Regions from separate parts of the Homo sapiens genome. Here region 1 is linked to region 2. Evidence: fine-mapped expression QTL. A gene starts in region 2. The other region holds a variant in brackets. All regions are shown on one strand. Distances are between the middles of the regions. Region 1 overlaps TNK2 (tyrosine kinase non receptor 2). Region 2 holds the start of TNK2 (tyrosine kinase non receptor 2).

Evidence for each region. PIP is the estimated chance that this variant, and not a neighbour inherited with it, causes the effect.
Region 1: its variant is fine-mapped to the expression of TNK2 in testis (GTEx, PIP 0.99). The same link has a PIP of 0.9 or more in fibroblasts.

The regions. Positions count from the first base shown.
Region 1 is chr3:195,868,435-195,876,434 of GRCh38, forward strand. It overlaps TNK2 (tyrosine kinase non receptor 2), which reads right to left. Exons shown (of 16, transcript NM_001382273.1): 10 at 3,842-4,036; 11 at 1,680-1,771; 12 at 1,063-1,107; 13 at 1-275. Among named protein-coding and RNA genes, the nearest start is that of MIR6829, 10 kb to the right of the region's middle. The variant T/C (reference allele first, on the strand shown) is at 3,780.
Region 2 is chr3:195,904,706-195,913,464 of GRCh38, forward strand. It overlaps TNK2 (tyrosine kinase non receptor 2), which reads right to left and starts at 3,846. Exons shown (of 16, transcript NM_001382273.1): 1 at 3,780-3,846. TNK2-AS1 (TNK2 antisense RNA 1) reads left to right here and starts at 3,371. Exons shown (of 2, transcript NR_145450.1): 1 at 3,371-4,073; 2 at 5,160-8,559. It overlaps LOC124906253 (keratinocyte proline-rich protein-like), which reads right to left. Exons shown (of 4, transcript NR_197446.1): 4 at 8,375-8,759. RefSeq lists enhancers at 2,060-2,109, 2,160-2,389, 5,380-5,429 and silencers at 4,060-4,309, 4,360-4,549, 4,600-5,249.

The DNA.
Region 1 (8,000 bases), 37 kb before region 2:
CTGAGGCGGGGTCTCGTCCAGCAGGGAGCAGGCGTCCATGGCCAGCTGCGCCAGGGAGGGCGCGCAGGGCCGTAGGGCCGGGACCACGGGCTCCTCACCGAAGTCGATGAGCGTGACCTCAGCCCCGCTGCCTCGGCTGGCCTTGGTGCCCGGCACCCGCGCCGAGGGCTTCGCCAGCCACAGCCCTCGGGGCAGGCCTGGCTTCCGCAGGCCCAGCCTCTTGAAGTCGCTGGACAAGGGGTCTTGGTCCTCGCTCACAGGGTCATAGGTTGGTTCTGTGATGGAAAGGGAGAGCCCAACAGGAAGGCAGTCAGGCAGGGTCTGGGACACGAGGGGAGGTGGCACGTGGGAGAGAAAGCCAAGTGTCCCCCAGCAACCCTCCACTCCCAACTCCCCCCGAGGTCTGAGGTCAGCCACCGGCGGCCAGGTTCTCAGCGCACCTCCGACCACTCCATCAGGAGGGCGGAACCTGCTCTGCCCGGCAGCCCCATGTGGGCCGGTGAGCCCCGCCTCGCTCCGTCTAAGCTGCAGCAAGCAACACTGGCTCCTGCCTGACGCTGCCTCCACCAGCACAAGACCCCGGCGGCCCTGCTCCTGCGCCCTGGCGAGTTAGTGAGCCCTCATCCCCGCCCCTGTCACGGCACACCATTAGTGCAGGCACGGAGCCGCCTCCTGCCATCAGGGGCTATAAGGACTATCCTTGGAGAGGACAGTACTCCTGACCAACGGCCACAAAGCCCAGACAGCGCCTGCAGGTCTGGGAGGCAGCGAGGCCAAGGCAGAAGCCAGGGCCACACTCGTGCTCCAGAAGCTCAGACAGGTCTGGGAGGGAGTGAGGCCGAGGCGGAAGCCAGGGCCACACTCGTGAGCAGAAGCCCAGGCTCCGGGGGGCGGGCTCGAGGGGGGGCAGGCATGCTAGGCCAGGGCAGCCGCGGAAGCTCACAGCACACACCCACCCACCTCCCCTCCGGCCCAGCCGCCCAGGCTCTGTACCTTCCAGGAGAGGAGTGAGAGAGAGGGGGCGGGGGCGGGGGCCAAGGCATCGGAAGCAGCCCCACTTACTCTGAGTGAAGAAGGCAGGCTGAGGTGGGCGAGGTGGAGGCTCCCCTGCAAGAAAGGCCATGCGGACAGGGGGAGAGAGACGGAGCAGGACAGAGGACAAAGGAGGGAGACGGCCGGACGAGAGGGCAGAGTGTAGAGAGACGAAGGGAGAGAAGTGAATGGGGGCGAGTGAATGTACAAGCCCCCAGCAAACGGGAGGCCGCAGGCGGCAGGATGAGGAACACGGCGGTCCAGTATGATAGGCAGAGGACCGGGAGATGGAGGAGGCCCCAGGCAGAGCCGGAGCCGTGGGGTGGTTTTGGCTTGGGACAGGAGAGCAGGATTAGGGGGAAGTGAGGAAAGCCAGGATCTGAGCTCGGCCGTGGAAGGAGGGAGGAGGGACGCCGGGGCGGACGGGCCTGCTGCAGACCCAGCCCGAGGAGGCCCACCTCGGCGGATACAGCTGCCTGTCTTCCACCCCACGCCCAGCCGGAGCCAGGGACACAGCTGTCCCGCCTGCTGCCCTGACCCCACTGTCCCCAAAAACAGAACAGCAGCCTTAGGGTGGCCTGTGAAGACAGTGCCCCTTCCTGAGTAGCCGATGAGTTAGGGACACCAGGGAGCAGAGGGGCTCTTACTTTTCACCCCTCCTAGATGCTGGGGGGGCCGGGAGGTGCTCAGTTCCACGCTCAGGAGGTCGGGGGGGTCCATGGGGTTTCCCAGATACAGTCTGTGGGGGAGAGAGCTGGGTCAAGAGAGCAGGGGAAGCGTGTGGAGGGGTGGCAGAATCTCATCAGAGCCCCTTCGTCCTGGAGGAAACCGGGTGTAGTCTTGGGTCTGAAGCACAGGCCTCCCGCCTCCCAGTCCACAGAACCTGACCGCACGTCTCAGCTGGGGGGTGTCCTGGAGAGAAGGCAGAGAAAGGACACCTGACCCCAGGATGGAAAGCCTAGGACCTCAGGGACTCCAACTACACCCTACAAGGGCAGAGGTGGTCCTCCACAACCCCCCAGGCCCCCAGCCCACACCAGGCAGCGGCCAGAGGGCAGACACTCCTGTCCCGCAGGCCACGATGGAGGGCCTAAGAACGGGGCATCCCAGCTATGGTGCCCAGCCAGGGTGGGCAGGAGGCACCCTTCTGCCACATGGCCAGGAGGTGCGGGAGAGGCTGGGCCACCTGTCCTGCTCCGGATCCACCCTCCGTCCCTGCACCAACTGTCAGTATCTGAGACTTAGTCACTGGGGCTGATTAAAGCCTGGAGGAATGGGGCTGGGCTGGCCACAGCATGCCAGGAGTGGGGCAGAGGGCACCAGCCTCTCCTGGAGGTGTCTGCAGTCTTTCACCCCAACTCTCAGGCCCTTGCTGGGTTCTTTTTAGGCAAAACACATGGGCTGAGCCCTGTGAGCTTGGGGTTCCAGTGTGTGTGGGCCCGCTGTGTGGGTTCTGGTGTGTGGGGGCCCGCTGTGTGGGTTCTGGTGTGGGGGGACTCGCTGTGTGGGGTTCTGGTGTGTGGGGGCCCGCTGTGTGGGTTCTGGTGTGTGGGGGCCCGCTGTGTGGGGTTCTGGTGTGTGGGGCCCGGTGGGTGAAGGCCCCTGCTTTCCACGCCTCTCAGGGCAGACCAGAGTATCAGAAGTCAGCAGGAGAAGGGCTGCAGAGGCCAGGGGCCTGGAATCCCCCTGCGGCCAGCAGAGAGGCTTGGAGGCCTGGCGCAAGAAGCTTCGGGGGGTGGGGGGTGGCATCCCGGAAGTGACTGATTCTGCGTGTCCTTCCCAGATGCCCCTCGGTGGCCTTATCCTCTTACATAGGAGACAGGGCCTCTCCCAGGTATGGAGTGAGCTCCGTAGAGTACTGTGTGGTGGGGAGGCGGAGCTGCCACCTAACGTTCCCTCTGCAGTCCCCAAGGTCCCCAGTCCCACTCTGGTTCTGGAAAGCAGGCTCACTCCCATGTGGACCTGCATACATCCCCAGGGCCTGAGCCAGCAGGTTCACGTCTCCAGGACTCTGGCACCACCAGCAGGAGAAGGAAAACCACTGCTCGTGTGCAGGGGTCACAGGGTCACAGGGTCACAGGGGGCCACAGGGGGGTCATGGGAGAAGCTCTCCTCCTCAGCAGCTCCCACCGGGTTCCTCCCAAGTTCATTTTCCTAAGGCCCGAGTACCAAGAGGGGTTACAGCTGTGGCTCCGGGGACCTTTCCACCAAACAGGAGTCCATCCTCAGAAGCTCCTGACCCTACTTTCATCTACAGTGAGTGGGAAAGCTTCTCTCAGGACCCCTGCATCTGAGCAGCAAGTGCTAATTCAGAGTGCATTTACAGCCTTCCCCTTATTGGGGGGGTGAACCTGTTTCACAGATGAAGTGTCTCAGAGTTAGGAGATCGGCCCCCCAAAGCTTGAAAATGGCAGGGACAGCATTCCCCTGGAGAACGCTCCCCGGAGAACCCTCCCCTGGAGAACCCTCCCCTGGAGAACATTCCCCTGGAGAACCCTCCCCTGGAGAACCCTCCCCTGGAGAACCCTCCCCTGGAGAACATTCCCCTGGAGAACCCTCCCCTGGAGAACCCTCCCCTGGAGAACACTCCCCTGGAGAACATTCCCCTGGAGAACCCCCACCAGGCTGGGCTTCCTAGGGTTCCACAGCTTCCCGAGAGTAAGGCCAGGGTGAGGAGGGGAGAGTGGCGGGTCGGGGGCTGAAGCCCGGGCGAAAGGGTGAAGAGCAGATTCCGCCCACGCGTGCCG[T/C]GCTGAGGGCCCTGGAGTCCCGAGCGGGGCCAGGTCAGCATCCATCCCCGCCCAGTACTCACTCGTCAATCCTGTCCGGGAAGCCCCAGCAGTGGCGGGGGTCACTGTCGCCATGCCCTGTGTGGATGAAGCTGTTCTGCAGGGGCTGGCTGATGTCCTGGGCCGACAGGCCGGCCACGGAGGTCACCACGTTGCGAGGGAAGGGCCCCACACACAGCGTCCGTGTGTTCTGGCCACGCCACCAGTAGTTCTCGGCCCTGCGCGACAGAGATGGCACGGTGAACGCCAGGCGTGGCGGGGCAGCCCCGGCACTGGGACCCTCCTCACACCCTGGCCACTGTGGCAGAAGGGGGATGGAGCTCAGGCCTCAGGACCAGGCTGTGTGCCACCGGCCCTCCTCCCCAACAGCCCCCGTGACCCACCATGCCCCGTACAGGCCTGTTTGCACACGGCCTTACCCACAACTCTCTAGGTGGGTCAGGCAGCTTTCCCTATGGTTTGCAAATAAGGAGGCACGCTGGAAGCTGCTGCAGCAGGCAACATGACCTGTCCACGGTTACCAGAAAGATCCCAGCAGACCTGGGACCCAACGCCAGCTTTCAGGTCTGTGGGGCCAGCGCCCCGCCCACACCTCCTCCTCACCCCTCAGTTCCCTGGCAAGGCCGGGGCCCCAGTCCTCTTCTGGCCACTTGATTTCACTCCTCGGCTGGGTTCCAGGAGTTCTGAGAGGTGCGGGGGTGCCGGGGGACACCTAGGGCCTTGCACTAGGCTGGGGGCCAGGCCTCCAGCTACAACCTGCCTCCCGAATGCAGACGCGGGAGAGTCTAGGAGCACTCGGGCAACTCAGTCCCTCCCTCCACCGCTTCACCTGCTTCCGGAGCTTTCCACCACCTCCCGGAAGGCCTGCGGGAGCCTCCCCGTCTCCTCAGGAGGGGCTCTACCTGTGTCCAAAAGGGAACTCAGCTCTCCCACAGTGACCAGACAGTAGGGCTGCCAGTCCCCCTCTGACCTCAGACACGAAACCTCTGCTGATGTGGCCTAAGCCGGGGCCTGGGCAGGGGCAGGGGCAGGGGCAGGGGCAGGCAGGCCAGGAAGCACAGGGCTCCCGCAAGACACTCCTGACTCCCGAAGGCTCTCACAGGTTGTGAGGCTCCCGCGTCTGCTGCTGGACTTGTCATACGTGATGCCGTGAGCAGAGTCTGGGCAGGCGGGGGCGGTGAGAGCCCCGTGGGCAGTGTCTGGGCAGGCGGGGGCGGTGAGAGCCCCGTGGGCAGTGTCTGGGCAGGCGGGGGCGGTGACAGCCCCGTGGGCAGAGTCTGGGCACGCGGGGGCGGTGACAGCCCAGAGCTGCTAGGGTGGACACGTGTGGCACCACACTGCACGCCCTCCCCACCAACCCCCACTTCTCCTGTCCCAGGGCCAAAGCGTGAAGAAGGGCTCCTCTGAAACCCAGCCAGGCCGGGGAGAGAGGACGGAGGAGGTGGCGACGCCTGGGCACCCAGACCCACAGCCTTGTAAGGTGACGAGGCCTGGCTGGAGCGGGGTGACTCCGGAACAGCCCATCCCAGAGACCAAAGTCAAACCCGAGAGCACCACGGTCGGCGGGGAGGCGGGGGGCGCGGGGCGCGGGGAGACGGGGCTGTGCTCCCCCTGCCCAGCCTCCTCATACACAGGGCCACTGGCCTGGCCCCACCACACACAGCCACCCTGTGATTCCCACCCTGCCTGCAGGGAGGGAAGGAAGGAGAGAGGACAGTACCCCGAGACGAGACGAGTCCCATCTGAAAAATAGCAGGGCCACTCGAAGGAGCAGAGCCCCGGCTCCCCAGCACGCACACAGCCTCCCACGGCGGCCCGTAGAGGAGGAACCCCGGCACCGGCTGGGCTGCGGCTCTCCCGCTACACCCACGGGCTCCCCGGTGGCTGCCGCGGGCCAGACGCCGGACTCTGCTCTCCACACCTCTTCAGAGGCGCTCAGTAACTGGGTGAGAATGCCGCTGAGGCCGAGACCTTGCTCAGAGCAGCGTGACTCGTGCCCAAGGCAGGTCACTCCGTCTGGCCTCTCCCTTCCGCCAACACTGCCCAGCTCCAGGCACAGAAGCCTCCTTTGGGACCCACTTCTGAGAGGGAAAGGAGACATCAAGCCCACCTCCCTTAGTGCAGGTATGGCCGAGGCAAGAGCCCCCATGGCTGCTGGGAGTCCTGACACCACTCGAGAAAACATGCTTGCTCCTGGGGGAAGGAGAGTAAGAGTGCGGAGGACGTGTGCAAGAAGCTCCCCTCGGGATGGCGCCCACGCACACTCCGAGGCACAAGAAACTCCCCCTCGGGATGGCGCCCACGCACGCTCCGAGGCACAAGAAGCTCCCCCTCGGGATGGCGCCCACGCACACTCCGAGGCACAAGAAGCTCCCCTCGGGATGGCGCCCACGCACACTCCGAGGCACAAGAAGCTCCCCTCGGGATGGCGCCCACGCACGCTCCGAGGCACAAGAAACTCTCCCTCGGGATGGCGCCCACGCACGCTCCGAGGCACAGGAAGCTCCCCTCGGGATGGCGCCCACGCACGCTCCGAGGCACAGGAAGCTCCCCTCGGGATGGCGCCCACGCACACTCCGAGGCACAAGAAGCTCCCCTCGGGATGGCGCCCACGCACGCTCCGAGGCACAAGAAACTCCCCCTCGGGATGGCGCCCACGCACGCTCCGAGGCACAAGAAGCTCCCCTCGGGATGGCGCCCACGCACACTCCGAGGCACAAGAAGCTCCCCTCGGGATGGCGCCCACGCACGCTCCGAGGCACAAGAAACTCCCCCTCGGGATGGCGCCCACGCACGCTCGGAGGCACAGGAAGCTCCCCCTCGGGATGGCGCCCACGCACACTCCGAGGCACAAGAAGCTCCCCTCGGGATGGCGCCCACGCACACTCCGAGGCACAAGAAGCTCCCCTCGGGATGGCGCCCACGCACGCTCCGAGGCACAAGAAACTCCCCCTCGGGATGGCGCCCACGCACGCTCCGAGGCACAGGAAGCTCCCCTCGGGATGGCGCCCACGCACGCTCCGAGGCACACGAAGCTCCCCTCGGGATGGCGCCCACGCACGCTCCGAGGCACAAGAAACTCCCCCTCGGGATGGCGCCCACGCACGCTCCGAGGCACAAGAAACTCCCCCTCGGGATGGCGCCCACGCACGCTCCGAGGCACAAGAAGCTCCCCCTCGGGATGGCGCCCACGCACGCTCGGAGGCACAGGAAGCTCCCCCTCGGGATGGCGCCCACGCACACTCCAAGGCAGCTTCATCCCAAGGCTCCAGTGGGACTTCCAAGAGGACCGTGTCACTTCTCGCAGCCCACACGCACCCGTGTGAGGCTCAGTGTGGCCGAGGCACCAGCAGTCCAGAGGGGACTGAGGCCAGCCCTTCCTTCCAGGCCCGCCCTGTCCGCGCCCTCTCTCTCCCGCCATGAACAGGCCGGAGTCCCCGTGGCCATGGGAGGGCCAGGGCTGCTACCCGGCCGTGACTGAAGCAGGGGCGGATGAGGACTTCCTGGGGGAGCAGGAAAAGGGCCCAACACCTCCGCATGAACCTTCTACCTCCTGCTGCCCCCGGGCCTCTGGTCAACATCTCTGGGGTAGACAAGATGGAAAACAGAGGCCGGTGCTGAGAACTGCCTAAGGCTGCCCCAGCTCTGGAAATCTCAGCACCACGTTCCCGTCCGGGCCGAAGGTAGTCCAGAAATGGCTCAACTAATGCCGGACATTCTGTTCAAAACGCCCGCCCGCTCTTCTCCCTAGGGGTCCCAGGCGCCCAGGCCTGGAGGGATAACCCGGATGCCTGGCTCCCACCCACCACAGGAAGCCGAGGCTCCAGGGCCAGACCAGGCCAAGGACCCGCAATGGATTCCAACACCCGCTCTGTATGCGGAACAAAAGTGCTGCCAGCCACCCCTTCCTCCAAACGAGCCCCTGGGAAAGACCAGTCATCATTTGTGTCTCCAAATCTAGACACAGCACGAAACATCTAGGTGTCTCCCCTCTGCCCACAGCCTGGTACCCTGAGAAGGACTGAGCCTAGACTCAGTCAGAGCTGCGGCAGGTGGCCTCCCAGACTCCGCACCAGGAAACAAATACTGGACACAGCTTCGCAAGTGGGAAGCCACGGCGAAGAGAAGGCCAGGCTAGGAGGGAACTCCAAACACAGACCCACAGATGCACACCCAGGCCCA
Region 2 (8,759 bases):
TAAAAATAAAAAACCAATACTACCAGGAAAAACCAGTATCATTTACAATAGCATAAAAATAGGTACTATTTAAGGATATGTTCAATAAAAGATGGAAAAGACTGATATACCAAAAACTACAAAACACTGCTGAGAGATAGTAAACAAAACCTAGACAAATACAGAGATATACACTGTTCATGGTCAGAAGGCTCAATACTGCTAACCGATCAATTCTCCCCAAATTGATCATAATCCCAATCAAAATCCCAGCAGGCTTTTTTGTAGAAATTGACTAACTAATTCTAAAATGTATATGGAAGTGCAAAGAACCCAGAATAGCTAAAGCAATTTTGAAAAGACAAAACCAAGTTTGAGATCTTACCCTGATTTCAAGACTTACTATAGTTTATAAACCCACAGTAATCAAGATAGTGTGATACTGGGATAAAGACAGACAAATAGATCAATGGAACAAAACAGAATCCAGAATTAGACACACACAAACAATTGATTTTTTTCTTTTTCTTTTTGAGATGGAGTCTCACACTGTCGCCCGGGCTGGAATGCAGTGGCGCAATCTTGGCTCACTGCAACCTCCGCCTCCCGGGTTCATGCGATTCTCCTGACTCAGCCTCCTGAGTAGCTGGGATTACAGGTGCCCGCCACCACGCCTGGCTAATTTTTTGTATTTTTAGTAGAGACAGGGTTCCACTACGTTCACCAGCTTGGCCTTGAACTCCTGACCTCATGATCCGCCCGCCTCAGCCTCCCAAAGCACTGGGATTAGAGGAGTGAGCCACCGTGCCCAGCCAGCAATTGATTTTTGACAAAGATTCAAAGGCAATTCAGTGGAGAGATACATCTTTTTAATAAATGGTGCTACTAGATCAATTAGATCTCTACATGCAAAAAACTGGACATTGATTCATACCTTGCACCACGTAACAAAAATTAACCCCAAACGAATCCTAGATCTCAATGTAAAGCCCAAAACTATAAAATGTCTACAAGAAAATACAGGGGAAAACTGTTGGGACTTTGGGTCAGGCAAAGATTTCTTGGACATGACACCAAAAATGCAATCCACAAAGTAACAAATTAGTAAATTAATCAAAATTTACAACTTCTCTTCAAAAACACAGCATTTTGCACTACTGATCATGAGAATTTTTTAGAAGACATTGTTAAGAGGATCAAAATACAAAGCCACAAGCTGGAAAAAAGATTTGTAAATCACATACCTGATAAAAGGCTTATATCCAGAATATATCAAGAACTCTTCAGAACTCAACACGAAAAACCCTACACAATTAAAAATGGGCAAACGATCTGAACAGACACAGCACCAAAGACATACGTATGGCAAATGAGCACATGAGAAGATGCCCGACAACATGAGTCATTAAGGAAATACAAATTAAAATTGTAATGAGATACCACTACAGACATGAGAGTGTCTAAAATTAGAGACTGACCACATCGAGATGTGGACATATCAAAGACATGGACAAACCAGAACTCTCATACACAGTGGATGAGTATATAAAATGTACAACCACTTTGGAAAACAGTCTGGCAGTTTCTTAAAGGTTAAATGTGTACCTACCACATGACCCAGCCATTCCGGTCCTAGGGATTTACCTAAGATAAATAAAAGTGTACATCCACACAAAGACTAACAAACACGTTCACAGCAGCTTTCTCTGAAAACCCATCAACAGGTCAATGGATAAACAGACTTTGGCACACGTGTACAATGACTGTTGATACGCGCAACCACCTGGACAAACTCCAAAATACTTCTGTTGAATGAAAGACGCGATTCCGTTTACAGTAAATGCTGCAAACTCAGACACAGTGACAGAAAGTAGACCAGCCTGTTACCTGGGGTAGGGGATGGCAGAGGAGCGGGGGATGGAGGGGTTCCACAAGAAAACTTCTGGGGACAGGGGAATAAGGGGGATGTTCACTATCTTGAAGGTGGGGGTGGTTTCACGGGTATATACACAGGCCACAACTTATTAAATTGTGTGTTTTAAATATGCTCAGTTTACCATATGTCATTATATCTCAATAAAACTGTTATTTAAAACAAACAAAAAGAAACACTGCATCTTCTAGACGAAGCACAAGGTGGGGGCTAATCCCGGGCTCAGGGGCCAGAGGGAACAGTCTGACCCTTCCTCCCTAACATCTGCCGGGGCTCCGGGGAGGTGGGCACCAGGCTCCAAAGGGCCTGAGGTTTCTTTACTCACGACACTGCAGGGGAAGTCCTGGCCCACCGCAGACACCAAGAAACTGAAACCTAAAGACATTATGTTGCCCAAGGAAGTTACACAGCTTGTAAGCGATATAACCAGATCAAAAGCAATCTGTGTGATGCCAAGGCCTTTCTCCCATTCATCTACCACAAGTTCAAAAACGCCGACCTGAAATAAGTAGGTGAAGATTGTGTGTATGTGTTTAAAACAGACCGTTCTCTCCACTGAAGCCAGACAGTGAGAGCCACTCTGGCCATTCCAGAAGCGTCAGGCACCGTGGGCACAGCAGCTGAACTTCCGGTGCATGAGTGTTTGGGTGGCAGCGCGACAGGCATGGGATGAAGCTGACAGGCGGGTTTGAGTTTGTCTGAGGAGCGGGCTAACCGGCTCCTCCAGCAGCTGCTACCTCCAGCACCACTCCCTCTGCCCCCAGAGGAGAGCACCCAGTCTGGTTCGGGACAGGGGTCTGGGTCCATCTGACTCACAGCCACACCTCGGGCTGGGGCAGAGGAGGGTCCTCTAGCTAAGGCCCTGGGCAAGCAGCAACCCTGCACCCATCCCCACCCAGGGGCAGGGGAAGCAAGCACCTGACAGTGCCAGGTAAGAGGCGAACAGCTCTAGGAGAGTAAGGCCCACAAGCAGCCCGCCAAGCCCCCTGGGGGCACGAGGCGGAATGAGTAGGTCTGGCACTCAGGCCACGAGGGAGTCAACAAGCCAAATACAGCCCCCACCCTTGGCCCCTACAAGCCCTACCTCTAGACTGGGCTGGGAGCTCCTGTCCTGACAGGTGCAGAGCCCATGATACCACAGCGGCCCATCTGCAAACCTCCCCAGGGTGGGGCCACAGAGGCAGCCCAGAGCCCTGGGGTGCAAGTGCACCCTCCTCTCCCGCCCCTCTAACGCTGGGTCGTCCCACCCAGAGACGAGAGGGCTCACCAGTTGCTCTCCCTCCTTCCGCCCACTAATCATCCTTGGCTCTGGGCCCTCAGGGTAAATCAGCTGTGACAGGACGGCGTGGCAGAAGCGGGCCAGGCTCGTGCCGTACCCAAGCCACTAGCTGTCACACTCATCTCAGCTCACGTGACCAACAGGGTTACAAGATAAGGTTCTGTTAATCCCACGCTGCCCTCTTCCCTTCTGTGGGACGTGTTTTGAGGACTTGTGTGTTGACTGCACCATGCAGAGCATATAGCATGGAGGCACCCCTACTGCCATCGGGGGGCAGGTGGAGGGGGGACCGTCCTGCAGCTCCTCCCTGGGGCTACCCCTCTCTTCCCTCTGCACAGACCTGGCAGCCACCCAGACGTCCCGCCTGCTGCCTAGACTCTAAGAAGATGCCCTATCACTCCAATTACCATACACAGTACTGGCGGGGGAGAGGTCCTGCCTTGCCGCTGAAAACTGCACTGCTTCCTCCCTCCAGGGATGAAAGGCCAAAAGAACGAGGGCAGTGTGGAGTCTACGCTCTCGCCAGGGACCTGCAGCCTCTCACTTCCAAGCACACCAACTCCAGCTAACAGGACTGGGCTTCCTTACCTGCCGCCTTCCGCTGCCTCCCCGCAGACACAGCTTCAGCGACGCCCAGGCTGAGACGGCAGAAGAGGTTCCCGCCGGCCGCGGCCTGCCCTCAGGCAGTGGCTCCCAGAGCTCAGCGGTTCCCCGCACTCTTCTGCGCCCGACTCCCCATGCCCCTACATCCTGCGTCCCCTTCAGCCCCGGAGGTACCGTGGGGCCCGGGCCTGCCAGTCACCACCTCCTCCTCCGCCGGCGCCTCCGGGTCCTGAGCCCCTCGCCGGGTCCCTCTCCCTCCTGGGGCTCCTTCCCGTTCAGGTAGGTTTCCTGGACAGCCCGCACCACCTGTCCCTCCTGCACCCCGGGCAGCCAATTCGCCTCTTGCACCCCCAGGCGCCCCTCCCCCGCAGGCCCCCGGGGCCCCACCGGCCGGGCCCTCCCCACCAGCTCGGGGCGGCTTCGGGGCGCCGGGGCCGCTCCCAGGACCACCGCCTCCCGCCCGACGCTCTCCCACTGCCGCTCCCCCAGTTCGCCGGAACTTTCCGGCCCCTCCCTGCGCTCGCGGGGGCCTTCCCCGGACTCGGACGCCGGTTCGGGCTGCTGCAGCAGCCTCCGCGGGCTCCCCTCCCCGCGCTCCTGCACCCCGGCCCGGGCCTCGCCGCGCTCCTGCACTGCGGGGCTGCCTCCGCCCTTCTCCTGGTGCTGCCCGCGGGGCCCCAGCCCCTCCTCCTGCGCCACAGGCCAGCCCGCCGAGCCCGTCCACCACGGCGGGCGCCCCCAGCCCGCGCCGTCCGGCGGCCCCCACACCACCCCCCGGCTGGGCTCGTGGCCGCGGCCGCCGCGCTCCTGCAGCCCCGGGCCCACCCCGCCCTCCTCCTGCACCGCCGGGCCCACCCCGCCCCGCTCCTCCACGCCGAGCTTCAGCCCGCGGAGCTGCTGCGGGCCCCAGCTGAGAACCCCTACGCGCTGCGGCTGCTGCTCCGGCAGCGCAGGGCTCAGCCCGCCGCGCTCCTCCTGCGCGACCCGCCGGGGGCCCCCGACCGGCTCGGCCCAGCGCACTCGCTTGCCCCCCAGAGGCCGCGCGCTCCCACCCCTCCAGATGGTGCTGCCCTCGGCGCCCGCTCACACCGCCCGCCCGCCCCGGCCCTCCCCTCCCGCCCCGGGCCGCCCCCGAGTCCCGCGCCCGCCTCCCCGCCCTCGCCTCCGGGCGTCAACGTCGGCCCGCCGGGCGCCCGCCCCGCGCCGGCCCCCGCAGGTGAGCGCCCGCCCGCCGTCCCTCCTGCCGAGCGCCCCGAGCCCGCCTGCGCCTGCGCCTGCGCCGCCCCGGGGTGGGGGGTGGGGGGGAGTCGGCCCGCCCTCTTAAAGGGCCCGGCCTCATCGCTCCTCCCCCGGCTCCTCCCCCAGCCTCCGGGGCCCTACCCCGCTCTCCCCGACTCCCCCGGGCCCGGCCTGCGCCTTCCTGCGGTGCCGAGGAGCGGTGGCGCCCTGGGTGAAGAAGTCCCGCCGAGTCGAGGGGCGCAATGGAGGAGCGCCGGAACAGGTCTCTCATTCCGAGTAGCTACCGTTGCACTGTGCGAGTGTAAAAGTCACTTCCACCCGGTCTCAGTTGTTCCAACCTCAGTTGAAGTGAGGAGGTTGGACTGGAAGGTTTCTGGGGTCACTCCAGTGAGGCTGGGGTTCTAGTCCCAATCTCACCGTGGCACCCCAAAGGCCCAGAAACCCGGACCATCACCTCTCTTTCCCCGGGGCCAACGGAGCACTCCTGAAGGAGGGAGGGTTTGTCTCAGGCCTGACGATTCCTGATGAGGACTTGGGCAGAAACAGCCCCAGGCAAGCGGACCTTCATTCCTGCACTTGAGCCGTCTCCTCCCTGCCCCCACCCCAGAAGGAGAAAACCCAGCGCTCGGATTCCCAGCGGCGGGGCAGCCTGCAGGCCCTGTTCCCAGCCCACAGACCCATGTCCCAGCCCAAACGGAGGCAGCCCTGGGCAGCGGGCGCGTGGAGCCCAAGGGCTCAGGGCCACTCAGCCCTTGTTACTGTCCCTCATCTAGAAAATGGATGTAATAACAAAACAGTTCACGGTAGGTGGCAAGATCAGACACATCGGAAACTGTGTAGGGCTGGCTCTTTCTGCGCTCACACTGTCCAGCAATGGGCCCCAGGGACTTGGCCAGAGCGCAGTAGGGCAATGAGAAAGGGGTGGCTTCTGGAAACCTACACGAGGCCCAGTCTGGGTGGATTTGGGTGGCGGTCCCTTGCCTGCGAGGTGGGCAGGGCAACTTTCTACTAAATTATCTAACACTGCCAGTAATGGCAGCCCTTCCCCAGGGAGCCAGGAGGCTGGGCCAGGACCACCCCCCTGTCGCCTGGCTTCAGGAAAGAAAGTGGGGAAGACAACAGATTTGGGAGAAGGAAACTGAGGAGGTTTTCTCCCAGTCTCCCTCACGCTGCCTCAGTCATGGCCATTGCTAAGACTCACAGAGCCCAACTGTGCAAGGCCCTGCACTTCGCATTCTTCTCATCCAACCCCATGACAACCCAAGGAGACACATAATATCCCCATTTTACACGTGGCAGAACTGAGGTTCTACATGGCCAAGTGACTTGTTCAGTGCCATACAGCTGGTAGTAGTGAAGCCAGGATTCAAATCCAGCTTTCCGACTCTAAAGTCTAAGGCACAGACCGAGTGTGGTGACTCATGCCTGTAATCACAGCACTTTGGAGGCTGAGGAGGGCAAATCATTTGAGCTCCCAAGTTCAGGACCAGCCTGGGCAACACGGCAAAACCCTGTCTCTACAAAAAAAATAGAAAAATTAGCAGAGCATGGTGGCACGCACCTGTAATCCCAGCTACTCGGGAGGCCGAGGGGGGAGGATCGCTTGAGCCTGGGAGGTGGAGGTTGCACTGAGTAGAGACCACACCACTGCACTCCTGCCTGGGCAATAGAGCCAGACCTTGCCTCAAAAAAAAAAAAAATCTGAGGCACAAAAAAGCAACGCCAAATCCAGGGGCCCTGCTTCAGGAAGCATCAGGACTAACTAGATTTTATTGGTCAATAGATGCAAACAACTGATTTAGAGCAAACTTCCCCTCCAGTAAATCAAGCTCCAAATCAAACAAAGCTAGAGGTCAAAGCGCCTCCACGCTGGTTGGTCCTGCTCCTAGGGCAGCACAGCCCCCCATTTCCCCAGCCCCCCATCTCTCCAGTTTCCCTCAAGAAGCCAGAGCCATGCCCCATATGCACCTCTAGTGTAGGATTATCTGGAGCTTTAGGTTCAAAGGAAAGAGTGAGGTCTCCTGCTCCCTTCCTCCCTCCCACCCTGTTCCTCACCAACTCCTGGACGGTCCCTGCCATGCGGTTGAGAACTGGGGCTATGCTGGGATGTGTCCGTGACACTGATCATGGTGGCCAGAGAGACACCGAGGGAGACTGCTCTGCCACTAGGGAGCTGACATGAGGAAGGAGCCCCAGACTAAAAACATAAGTCTCAGGAGATTTGGGAGGTGGCCACAGGGATAACCCCAACCCTCTAATTAACGTGCCTGAGCCAGTCTCCTCCTACATCTGGAACTTTAGGAGAGCTGCCCACAGCAGAATGACTCGGCAAGGAGAAGGGCTTGTCGGGTCTAGCTGGGAGTGGAGGTGGGCCAGGCTGCCAGAGGGAGGCTTTGGGTGGTGCCCTTAAGAGTCTCCTTCATGAGCTGTTTTGCACTGTGAGGTAAGCAAGAGGGCAAGGAAGGCCATTGCTGGGGAATGGGCCGCCTGGCTCACACCTGCAGGCAGCTGCTAAGCCAAGAGTGGGTGGGTGCTGCTGAGGGATTGGGCTTCTAGTTTGTTTGTTTTTATTTTTTTATTTTTTTGAGATGGAGTTTCGTGCTTGTTGCCCAGGCTGGAGTGCAGTGGTGCAATCTCGGCTCACCGCAACCTCTGCCTCCCGGGTTCAAGCGATTCTCCGGCCTCAGCCTCCCTAATAGTTGGGATTACAGGCACCCGCCACCACGCCCAGCTAATTTTTTGTATTTTTAGTAGAGACGGGGTTTCGTCCTGTTACCCAGGCTGGTTTTGAACTCCTGGCCTCAAGCAATCCACTCATCTCGGCCTCCCAAAGTGCCAGGATTATAGGCCTGAGCCACTGCGTACAGCTTGTTTTTAAATAAAGCAGTTTTTAAAACTACTGTTGCAACCTTTTAGAGGGAGGTAAACTGAATATGGTGGATTTTGAATGACTATTTTTTTGTTTTATGAAAGAGGATAATAATAGAATAGAAAATATGAGAATGTTTGGCCGGGTGCGGTGGCTCACACCTGTAATCCCAGCAGTTTGGGAGGCCGAGGCAGGTGGATCACCTGAGGTCAGGAGTTCGAGACCAGCCTGACCAACATGACGAAACCCCGTCTCTACTAAAAATACAAAATTAGCCGGGCATGATGGTGCACGCCTGTAATCTCAGCTACTTGGGAGGCTGAGACAGGACAATCGCTTGAACCTGGGAGGCGGAGGTTGCAGGGAGCTGAGATCACGCCACTGCATTCCAGACTGGGCGACAGAGCAAGACTCTGTCTCTCTCAAAAAAAAAAAAAGAAAGAAAGAAAGAAAGAAAGAAAATATCACAATGTAATTTTTGAACTTTTTATTGACGTACAGCATACCTCCAGAGAAGTGCTGAAAGCTTGCATTCTTACAGGTAATACACCCAGCACCCAGATCAAGAAATGGAACATAACCAGCACCCCAGAACCCTACCCTAAAAATGTAATTTAAAAAAAAAGATTTTAATAAATATCTTTTAGCGTGCCCTTTATATACATGGTTTACTTTTAACTTTCTGATCCCCTTGCCCTCCTCCTAGAATAGAAACCTCCCAACAACCGGGGCTTCTAGACACAGGCAGCTAGAATGAGGCCTGGCGCAAAGCAGGTGCCAAAACTACCTGCTGAATGAATGGGAGTGCAGAGTGCACCCCAGGTAGTGAAGGCATTGTTTCTGTGGTGTACTTGCTT